Linked DNA regions of Homo sapiens: region 2 is linked to region 1. Evidence: fine-mapped expression QTL. Tissue or cell type: cerebellum. Region 1 holds a variant in brackets; the other region holds the start of a gene. All regions are shown on one strand. Distances are between the middles of the regions.

Region 1 (5,186 bases):
GGAGCTGTGGCAACATAACTGCATGCTGACTGGCCCGCCTCAGTGATGCCAGGCCCACTGACAGCAGCAGAGAGCGAGGGGCAGTCCATAGCTGCCAGGCCTTTCTGCCCACACCACGCCACTTATATGGCCTCCTGCCATGGGCAGAGTAGGGAGGTGAGGTGCTCGTGGTGCCCAGAGTCCTCATCAAGGAGTGAAACCAGAGTGTGGCCATAGCCAGTAAGAACAGCACGCTGCAGCCCAGCCCATCAGCCTCAGGCACTGAGCTCTCTGCACACTCCATGAATGCAGAGCAGCATCAGGCTGGCCTCAGCCCCTTCCCGTCTTAGGCCAGCCCCAAGGGTGCTGTGGTTCCTCGGGATGCCAGAGCTCCCCCAAGCTGTGGCTGTGCCTGGCTGGGACCTTTCCCCCTCCTGCTCAGGGAAGTTTCCCACCCCCGGGCCAGAGTGGGGCTTGCCTTCTCTCCCTCCGTCACAGCCAAGGACCATGCACAGCAAGGGCAGAAGCAAGTGCTACCTACATTTCAACTTGCTTCCCAAAAATCTCTCTCAAGTTCCTTAACATGCCCTGGTGGCCCGTGTGAGCCCCCTCACCCTCCCTTATCATGTCCAGAGTAAAGGCCTCTTCGGGGACAGTGCCGAGGCCTCGGTCTCAGGGACCTAAAGGCAGGCCCTGCTCTTGGCAGCTGGCTTGGGCAGAGGGCCCACCCACCACACAGTCCTAGGGCTGCCCCACCTGCAGGCCTAACCCCTCCACAACTACTTCCCCTTCCAATGACCAGGAGGGCAAGAACCCAGAGAGTTTCTGTAATCATTTGAGGAAAATGATTACACTCACCTCCCCATGTTACCCTCCACCCCTCAGGAGTGGGCACTGGCTTACACTGCAGGATGTTGGCCACAACAGCAGAAACAAGACAGATGGTACACATATGCTCTTCTGTTAGAGATGGACCGGCACTGGTACCAGGGAGAGCTACCCTGACACACTCGCTCTCCTTCAAGCAGGGAGAGCTGGCCCTGGCTCCTGAGCCTTTGCACACCTCCGAGCCGGGCGCACCTTCAGCATCTCCTGCCTGGCCCTGCCTTGCACTTTGGCCATCTCCCTACAAGCCACATAGCTGGGCCCAGCCTGCGTTCCCAATCACCCACACTTCACTGACCATGCCCAGCAGGCTGGGATAGGAGATGTAGCTGGGACGACCCCACCCCTGCCCACAAAGCCACACAAGTGGCCCAGGAGAGAGGCAGCTGTGAGCAACAGCAGAGCTGCCCAGCTCTGCCCCCTCTGAGCACAGAGCCTCAGGAATACGCTCCAGGGTGGCAGCACAGGCTGCCCTGGGACCTGCTGATGGCCAGTTACCTGCTTGACCATCTTGCTGCTCTCACGGCCATACATGCGCAGTAAAGACCCCCAGTTCTTGACATGTGGGTGCAGCAGCTGAAGGATCTTCTGTGAGGCTAACTGCTTTCCAACTCTCTTGTTCTTACCTACACAGAGAAAGAGCAAGCATGGAGAGGGGGTCACAAACACCCAGTGCTCATGGGGCCCCCTGCCGCTCCCAGCCCTCCTGACCCACACCCCGAGGGCCAGCCAGGGCACATTCTACAGGAATAGGCAGCACTCTGCCACTGCTCTGGGCACCTGAGTCTCACAGTACCCAGCTGCCACCTTGAGAGAGTGGCCCTCAGAGTCTAGGAGCTGAGGACACTACCACTCAAAGCCACGCAGCCGAGAGCCTCCCTCCCGCCAAGACGCACACCTCCAGAAACAGGGAGCAGCAGGATTCTGCTGGCTGTTCGAGGAGGAGGGCCTTTCCTCCTGCCACAGGGACAAGGGCTGGACGGAGACAGGGGTGACAGCGGGGGAAAGGGAAAAGACAGGGAAAGTGCAGGCAGGACGGCTGCCAGTCCGCCTTAGGCTGAACGTGTGGTGGCCAGCACACACAGCTGGGCTCAGGGACAATGCCAGGGCAACAGCTGAGACCAAGCCACAGAGGCGCAGGGCCACACCAGGGGCCGCCCGCCCAGCGGCCACCAGGCAGCAGAGAAGGAGTCCTTACACCACCCGCGCACTGTGTGCTTGCCACACGCCATGACGTATTCACTCTTCTGGTTTTTCCCAGGAACCACTTCAAACTTGATAGACGTGTCACCCATCCCATGGTTTCTTTAAGAGAAAACAGACAACAGATGGCGTCCCCTGAGCAGAGCAGCCAGCTGCCTCTGAGGAGGCCTGCTCTGGGAAGCCCTTAGGAAATGACCAAGCCTCTCCCCAGACTGCATCTCAGCCAGAGGAGGGAATTCTCCACACGCC[C/T]GATTCAGGCCTGTGGGACTGACTGGTGGCCAGGGCCAAGGGGCTGCTGTGTACCCAGGGAAACCTGGCCATGCCTCTGCCTTGGGACAAACAGCCACAAGAATATGAGACGCCAGAGAGGAGCTCCCCCGACCTGACTCATGGGGGGAGGCACCCCCCTACCCTACCTTTTAAGGCACTCGTGGAGGATCTGATATGGAGACAACAGCCCAGCCTTGCTGGTCAGCTCGTAGACCCGCGAGTCCTCGATGCTGATGTGGTTAAAATACTACAACACAAAGCAGAGGCTTGTGAGTCCCCACCAGGCCCACCGGCCTCTTCATGGCTGGGCCTGCGGTTGGCTTTCCCCAGATGCTTAATGTCTGTTCTTGTGAGCTCGCCTAGCACTTCATACCTCAACTCTGCAAGGAACCCACCGGGTACAAGACATGCTCCGTACCTCACCGTCCAGTTGCCCATCTCCAGAGCCCACAGCACCCTTCCACCCTGAGCACTGTGGGATGGAGTCTGGTATCCTAAGAGGGCCCCAGGTACATGGCTGGCTGGCCAGGCCCACCTTATTTGGATCTGATTCTGATCCATAAGGCACCCTTCTCAGAACTCTATAAAGATAAAGCACCTTTGCAGAGAGGCTTTACTATTGCCACAACTGAGACTACAGGAGAGGGAAAGTCAGCCAGACCCAAAAGCTGGCCTTAAAAGGCCCAGCTCCCCAAAGGCCAAAGCCCCACACAGCTACACAGAGCCCAGCCCCAGGTGGCCAGCAGAGGCCCAGCCCAGCAAGGCTTCCAACAGTGTCATCACCCTGGCTCTGCAGCCAACCCAAGAACACACAGGAAGGACAAGAGAGGCAGACAGGGAAACAAGAGGTGATGGGGAGATTCCACACAGTGAGGCATAGGGAAGCTGCAGCAGGCTGAGGTGCAGAGACATTGCCCACTGTGCCTTCCCAGACTAGGACTTTGGCTGAAGCTGAGAGTGCCTCCTGGGTGAAAGGAAGATGCTATCCAGCCCACTCTGGAGCATGGACAACCTCCCTGGTGGAGCTCCTGTGACAACATACCACAAAGTCAGTGGCTTAGAACAAGAGGTTTATTCTCTCACCATTCTGAAGTCTGAAATCAAGGCCTCAGCAGGGCCATCCTCTTTCAGAAGCCTCTAGGGAGCCTCTGCCAGCTCCTGGTGGCCCCGGCATCCCTTGGCTATGGCAGCATTGCTCCGATTTTCATATGGACTACTAGCCCTGCCCCTCCTCCCTCTTCTTAGAGAAACACCAGACACACTGGATCACACCACTGCTCTGCTTCAGTGTGATCTCATGTTAACCTAATTCTATCTGCAATCATCCTCTTTCCAAAAAAGACCACACTTTGAAGCACTGGAGATTACCCATCAGCCACACCCTCACAGTGCTTCCCCCACTGGCCCTGTTCTGGAGGGGTCTGCAGGGACCTGGAGCCTGCCTGGCCCATGGGCAGCGAGGAAACCTAGAATCAAATGATTCACACGCCTCGCTGTGCAGGCTCCACAGTGTGCCAAGCCCGCTCCACAGGGACACTGGCCCTACAGACAGGGCAGTGGGCAGCTCCTCTGCCCTCGCCGCTCCAGCAAGCAGCAAGGCCAACTCGCTGCAACTGCATAGAAGAGGAAGGCACTAGCCCTGAGGTTGGCAAGCGAAAAATCCTCGAGGTATGGCTTGGCTACTGTCTTCAAATAGGTCCCCAGAAGACACTGCTCCTCTCAAGTGCACAAATCAACATGGGTCTTTTTCCAGGGAAGGTCACTCACCAAGACATCAGGCCCTGGAACCTCAAGGGTTTGTCAACCAGCCAACCAATTAGCAACGTCCAGTGCTGTCGGCCCACAAGAACCCACATACCCCACGGCTTCGGGACTGGCCCTGGAGAAGCTGAGGCAGTGGCTGACACACACACAGCTAGAGAGCACGCTCAGAAGTTTCTGGCAAAAGACCGACGCCAGCCGGGCGCGGTGGCTCACGCCTGTAATCCCAGCACTTTGGGAGGCCGAGGCGGGTGGATCACGAGGTCAGGAGATCGAGACCATCCTGGCTAACAAGGTGAAACCCCGTCTCTACTAAAAATACAAAAAAAAATTAGCCGGGCGCGGTGGCAGGCGCCTGTAGTCCCAGCTACTCGGGAGGCTGAGGCAGGAGAATGGCGTGAACCCGGGAAGCAGAGCTTGCAGTGAGCCAAGATTGCGCCACTGCAGTCCGCAGTCCGGCCTGGGCGACAGAGCGAGACTCCGTCTCAAAAAAAAAAAAAAAAAAGACCGACACCAGGATGCCCTGCACCAAGCTGCCTGAGGCCACATGTGCTACTGAGGGTTAACCCGCCAGGGACAGGTGGAGGCTCCAGCTCATGAGAGCAGACAGATGGCAGAAGTGACCTGCAGACAAATCCCTGTTGCTTCTGACAAACAGCACAGGAGAAACCTAAGCAATCAGTGCCTGGCAGATGCCAAAGGACCGTGTGGGAGCACCACAGACGCCCGACACCTCTACATTCCACTATCTATATGAGATGGACCAATGCCTGGCAAGACACAAACTATCTCAGTAGCCTCAACAGCCCTACACCTGTTCAAGAAACTCAACAGTAGTTCAGAGTAGTCATAGTTATAGTTAGTAGTTCATACAGTAGTAGTTTAAAACTTTCCCATTAGGAAAACTCCAGGCCCAAATTTTAAGGAAGAAATGATACCAATCCTATATCTGTCCTGCCCTTCTGAAAAACTCAGGAGGAGGGCTACTTCCCACTTCGCTTGATGACACTACCCGTACCATGACCTTAACACCAAGAACACAGATGCAGCAGGGAACTAGCAAATTAAAGCCATTAACACATGAAAAG
Region 2 (5,110 bases), 980 kb after region 1:
ATGGGCTGGTAGGGGATGCCCTGCAGCAGCTCGGGGGCTGCATATGCCACCAACCCGCAGAAGTTCTTGCTTAATCTCTGTTGGCCACTGTCATCCCGCAGGCAGAGCTTGGAGAACCTGAAGTAGAACAGCTTGATGTTGAAGTCCTTGTCGAGGAGAAGGTTCTAACACTTGAGGTTCTGGTGCATGATGTCCAGGTCGTGGCAGTATTTAATGGCTGAGGAGAGTTGGTGGAACATCTTGCACGCCATGTCCTTGGGCAGGGCTCCCTGGCACTCAATGAACTAGTTTTTTTTCTGCCCCTGGCTGGGCTCCCAGGGCAGATCTGGGGCTGGGGGCTAAAGGCGGGGACTGGATGCCACCCTGAGCACTGGTGGCTGCTCTGAGGACAGTACAAGCAGCAGGGGCAGCACTGGAGAGTGTGGCCATTGTTTTTTCTGGCAGTGGAGCCCCTCTGCTGTGCCAGGCTCTGTGTCCAGCACTTGTTCCGGGCTATGCCCTAGGGGAGTAGGAGTCACATGACTATCCTAGCCTTGGATTTGACTTTGGCCTCATCCACCTAGAGGGAGTGAGCACCCCTTTCTCACAGGAGCCAAGTGGAACCCTGGGCCCCTCAGGATGACTTGGTAGGGCGGGCTGGTTGTCACTCATGTTGGGTTGGGTCCCCACCTGCCGTGGCCCTTCCCCCTTTTCTCTGCTCCTTCACCTTCTTCCCTAACGCTGACTGCCCACTGCCAGGCCTTTGTGCATTCTTGGTTCTCCTCCTTCCAGACAGCCTCCTTCTCCTTCCCGCTGGGGACACCCCAACTACTGTCTCCTGGAAACCAAAAATAAAACTCTAACCCCCCAGCCATCTGAATGGACCCCTCCTCTCCACCAAGGGCATTCCAAACTTAACCTGAAAAACTATTTCAGGCCGTGATAGGAAGTGGGAGTCAGGCCTCATTATCCCTCCTCCCTTCAGGTTTCAGGCACAGCTAAGCAGTGTAACATCGACACAGAGACTTGAAGACTGACAACAGACTCTGTGGCAGTAAGATACCAGCATGACAGCAGGCCCGGAAGGAAACACATATTTTACTGCAAAACAGGTTTCTTTCACATATTTTGAAGTCGCTCTGCAAAGCTGTTTTTTGTGGGGAAAATCTACATTCTGTAGAGAATCCCTATCCCTTTCAAGGTCTTTTCTCCTGAGAGAATTAACTAGAGTCTGGCACCTTTTATTTATTTTTCCTTTTTTTTTTCCTTTTTTTTTTTTTTTTTTTTGAGACAGAGTCTTACTCTGTTGCCCAGGCTGGAGTGCAGTGGCATGATCTTGGCTCACTGCAACCTCTGCCTCCCCGGTTCAAGCGATTCTCCTGCCATCAGCCTCCTGAGTAGCTGGGATTACAGGCGTGTGCCACCACGCCTGGGTAACTTTTGTATTTTTAGTAGAGATGTGGTTTCACCATGTTGGCCAGGCTGATCTTGAACTCCTGACCTCAGGTGATCCGCCCGCCTTGGCCTCCCAAAGTGCTGGGATGACAGGCGTGAGCCACCACACCCGGCAGAGTCTGGCACTTTTTAATAAGAAACATTAACAGTCTTTTCTCTGTGAAGCCTGATACCTGGAGGCTTCATTTGCCTAAGAAACTTGGTCTCCACAACCCCTTAATGTAGACAGTCCCTTTTATTGATTCCAGGTCTTTAGATAAACTCTTTGAACCAACTGCCAATCCGCATGACCTAGAAGCCCCCCTCCACCCCCCACTTTCAAGTTGTCCCGCCTTTTCCGACTGAACCAATGTATATCTTACATGTGCTGATTGATGTCTTGTCTCCCTAAAATGTATAAAACCAAGCTGTGGCCCTACCCCCTTGGGCACTTGTCAGGATCTCCTGGGGCTGTGTCCCAGGCTATTGGTCACATATTGGCTCAGAAGAAATGTCTTCAAATATTTTACAGAGTTGGACTCTTCGCCGACACTGCCCTCCAAGGTTCACCCTGTTGGTGATGACGGGAGAAGTGGCACTTGGAGCACTGTTCGCAGGGGCGCTGAGCCTCCTCTCTGCCTAGCTTTCTTTCCTGCACATGTGGCCTTCCCCTAGCCATTGTGTAGGCAGGTCCTCCAGGGAGCCGGCTTCGCTGCAGTCTCCAGGACCTGGCCTTCCCGGTCTCTCTTTGCCTGACACTCTCTTAGGCCATTCCTGTTCCTCTTTCCCCACCCTCAGAACCGGCAGGCCCTCCCTCCTCCACAGCGGTTCGGCCTTAAAAAGACCCCTTTGGGGCGCACTTTTGGGCTGCTCACGGGACCTGAGCTTGCAGGTGTGAAGACCCTTGGAGTCCCAGCCAGGTTCCCACTTCGTTCTCTCCGCTCCCCACCCGCGCGACCCCTCGGCGCCCCGCCCCATGCCCCGCGCCTTTCGATGTCCATCCTTGCCGTCCCGCGCCCGCCGTCCCTAACCGGCGTCCAGAGACCCTACTCCCTTCGGTGGCCCCGCCGCTCAGGCCCCGGCCCCGGCCCTGCCTCTCTGCTTAACCAATGGCACGCCTCACTCCGTATGGTCCCGCCCTTCCCTTAGAGCCCGCCCCTCAGTCCCCGCCCTTAGGTCCCCGCCCTCCGCCGTCGCGACCTTAGGCCTCACCCTCTTCGGAGGGCTTTGGCTCTGGCCCCGCCCCCCATCTTGACGGTCATTGGCCCGCGCCTGCGTCGCGGGCGGGAGGCGGGGCGGGGCGGCGCGGCGCGGAGCCGAGCAGGACGGCCGCCATCTTGCGCGCAGCTGGAGTCGGTGCCTGAGGTTGCAGCCGAGAGTGTGCGCCAGCCCGCGGCCCAGCCGAAGCTCTTTCCCGCCGCCTCTCCGCGCCTCGCCCAGGTTCAGCTCCGCCTGACCCTCCGCTTGGCACGGTCCCCTGACCCTCAGTCCGGCCTGGTCCGGCCTTCCAGCCGCCCCGGGGACGATGAACGGAGGATAAATGGTGCCCAAGGCAGACAGCGGCGCCTTCCTGCTGCTCTTCCTGCTCGTGCTCACTGTCACCGAGCCGCTGCGGCCAGGTGCGCCGCGCGATGGGGGCGGTGTGGGGGCTGGGCGGCGAGCGGGGCCGGGGTCGCCCCGGGACCTCCTTTCACCCGCGGCGCCCTCCTGCAGGGGCCGCGCCTGGGGCAGGGGCGGGCGGGGCCTGGCTCGCGGGCCGCCTGGCACTCTCTGCGGACGCCTGCTGGAGCTTACCTGGGCTCGCGGCGCCTCGGACTTCGTGCAGCTCTGCTGTCCAGGATGTTGCCTCTGGGCCCTTCCCGGGAGCGGCGGCGGCCAGGAGCTACGCCACGGGCGCACCCTCTCGCCAGTCCAGCGTCGGAGTCGGGCTGGGGACAGTGGCTCTCAGGGGCACCTGGTTTCACAGACGTCCTCCCAGCAGTGGCCTAGTGCCAGCCTCTCAGTCCTGGAAACTCCTCGCCTGGACAGCGGTGGTTGTGGCTGTCATTCAGTGAGACGTTGCGCTAAGGAAGTCCTCAGGTCCCACCGGGCCTAGAGGAGGCACCAGGAGTCAGCCTAGCGTTGTGTGGCCGGCGCGAGCGTCCCGGGAGCAGAGACCTCGCCACTGTGCGGGGCCCTTAGCCGTGCTGCGTGTATGTGATGAATGAGTCCGTGCTTTGGAACTCCCCTCGGAGCTAGTGTGTTCTTAAGTCTGTGGTGGGGAATCAGAACCGTGGCAACCAGGAGACCCTTTTCTACCTATTTCGGTGTACCTCCCCTTGAACTGCACCAAAAAATCAAACTCCCTAAATGCAGGGCCGATGTATCCATCAGGCACAGGAATCCTGGTATCACTTGCCCACGGTACTTTTAGTAGCCTTCGAATGTTATTTTATTTTTTTTTAAAGTCAGCAGAAAAAAAATGAACTTTTAGGTCAAATAAAATGTTTTCGTATGTATATTAATACAGTCATCTTTATACTAATACAGTGAAAAAGCATGACTCTTAATATTTCTTAATGGAGGAAAGGTCCCATGAAGGCAGAAGTGCCAGGGCCATCTTCTCTGATGACCTGGGTGTGGGAGCACGGGGTGTGTGGCCCTCTCCTGTGCCCTAGCCAGGCTCCCAGCCCAGATACACCGCACCTCTTGGCTCTGCGCTTGTGTCATCTATGTGGAATGTCTGCCTCCTCCCTAGTGCCTGCCTGGTGGCCAAGGCCCTGACCGGTGCTCAACCTGGACAGATTCAGTGATGCTTCTCTGGTCTCCCCATGTAGAGCTAGTTGCTCACTGCTTTTGGCTGCTCTCTGGGCAGCGGGATGACTAGTTGTGGGGTGGCCTTGGTAAGAACAGAAGCCAGGAAAAGGGCTACCTGTGGAGGAGGGTATCATATAGGCTCTTGGAGGTCAGAACCAATGGGTTTGTGGATTCTTGTGATTAACTTCTTTAGAAAACATATATGTACGTGTAGAGAGGTAGAAGGTCACCGTTTTCTGATTCTTGAGTCCCAGTTTTGCAGATGAGGTCACCGGGCTCAGGTGAGGCCATATTATGCCTGGCTTCTTTGGGGTGCCTCTGGTTCCAGGCCCAGCATCTCCTGCCTGGGTGATAGAGGTGACTGACGTCCCCGACTCCTTTTTCCTTGCCAGCCTTTTCACATAGCCTGCCAACTGGCCAGCAGCAACTGAGAAAGTGCCTGTGGGTGCTTGCCCCCTGCCCATCCCTAGGGAATCCAAGTGACAAGAACAAGCCCCTCCTTTTAGGAGTGCCTGATGTGGAACAGAGGCCAGGTGTAAGTCACTTGTCACACTCCTGTGTGTTGAATACCCTGGAGTGTGGGGTCCCAGAGGTGGGTGGAGGTGGCCATCTTTTTGTACCTGTGAAGCAGTGAGGGCGTCACAGGAGACCTCACACTGAGGTCGGAGTAGGGCATGGGTGGGGTGGATCTGGTAGAGGGAGCAAACTTATTCTTTCGATTCCATGACTCTCCAGATGAGAACATTGCAGCTACCCCTGGAGGCGTCTTGAGTTGCCCTGCAGAACCCGGGAGCTGCAGCTGGCTTCCTGGCTTTGGCTGGGCAGGGAGGGCAGGCCTCTGGGCCTGATGTGTTCCTTGTATGCCCGTGTGTGCCTCTTCACACATTCACCATGTGTCCTT

Which allele goes with the higher level. Alleles are on the strand shown, and positions count from the first base shown. SD is a standard deviation of normalised expression in the study named.
In carriers of allele T in region 1, the expression in cerebellum of the gene that starts at base 2,748 in region 2 tends to be higher than with C alone (large effect, 1.2 SD a copy in GTEx).

The links. PIP is the estimated chance that this variant, and not a neighbour inherited with it, causes the effect.
Region 2: DGCR2 starts here. The variant in region 1 is fine-mapped to the expression of DGCR2 in cerebellum (GTEx, PIP above 0.99).

Annotation. Positions count from the first base shown.
Region 1 is chr22:20,103,575-20,108,760 of GRCh38, reverse strand. It overlaps DGCR8 (DGCR8 microprocessor complex subunit), which reads right to left. Exons shown (of 14, transcript NM_022720.7): 10 at 2,484-2,584; 11 at 2,063-2,169; 12 at 1,363-1,490. Among named protein-coding and RNA genes, the nearest start is that of MIR6816, 8.6 kb to the left of the region's middle. The variant C/T (reference allele first, on the strand shown) is at 2,317.
Region 2 is chr22:19,120,050-19,125,159 of GRCh38, reverse strand. It overlaps DGCR2 (DiGeorge syndrome critical region gene 2), which reads left to right and starts at 2,748. Exons shown (of 10, transcript NM_005137.3): 1 at 2,748-3,032. The coding sequence starts at 2,954. It also overlaps the pseudogene TSSK1A. RefSeq lists silencers at 2,424-2,863, 2,984-3,103 and an enhancer at 2,888-3,389.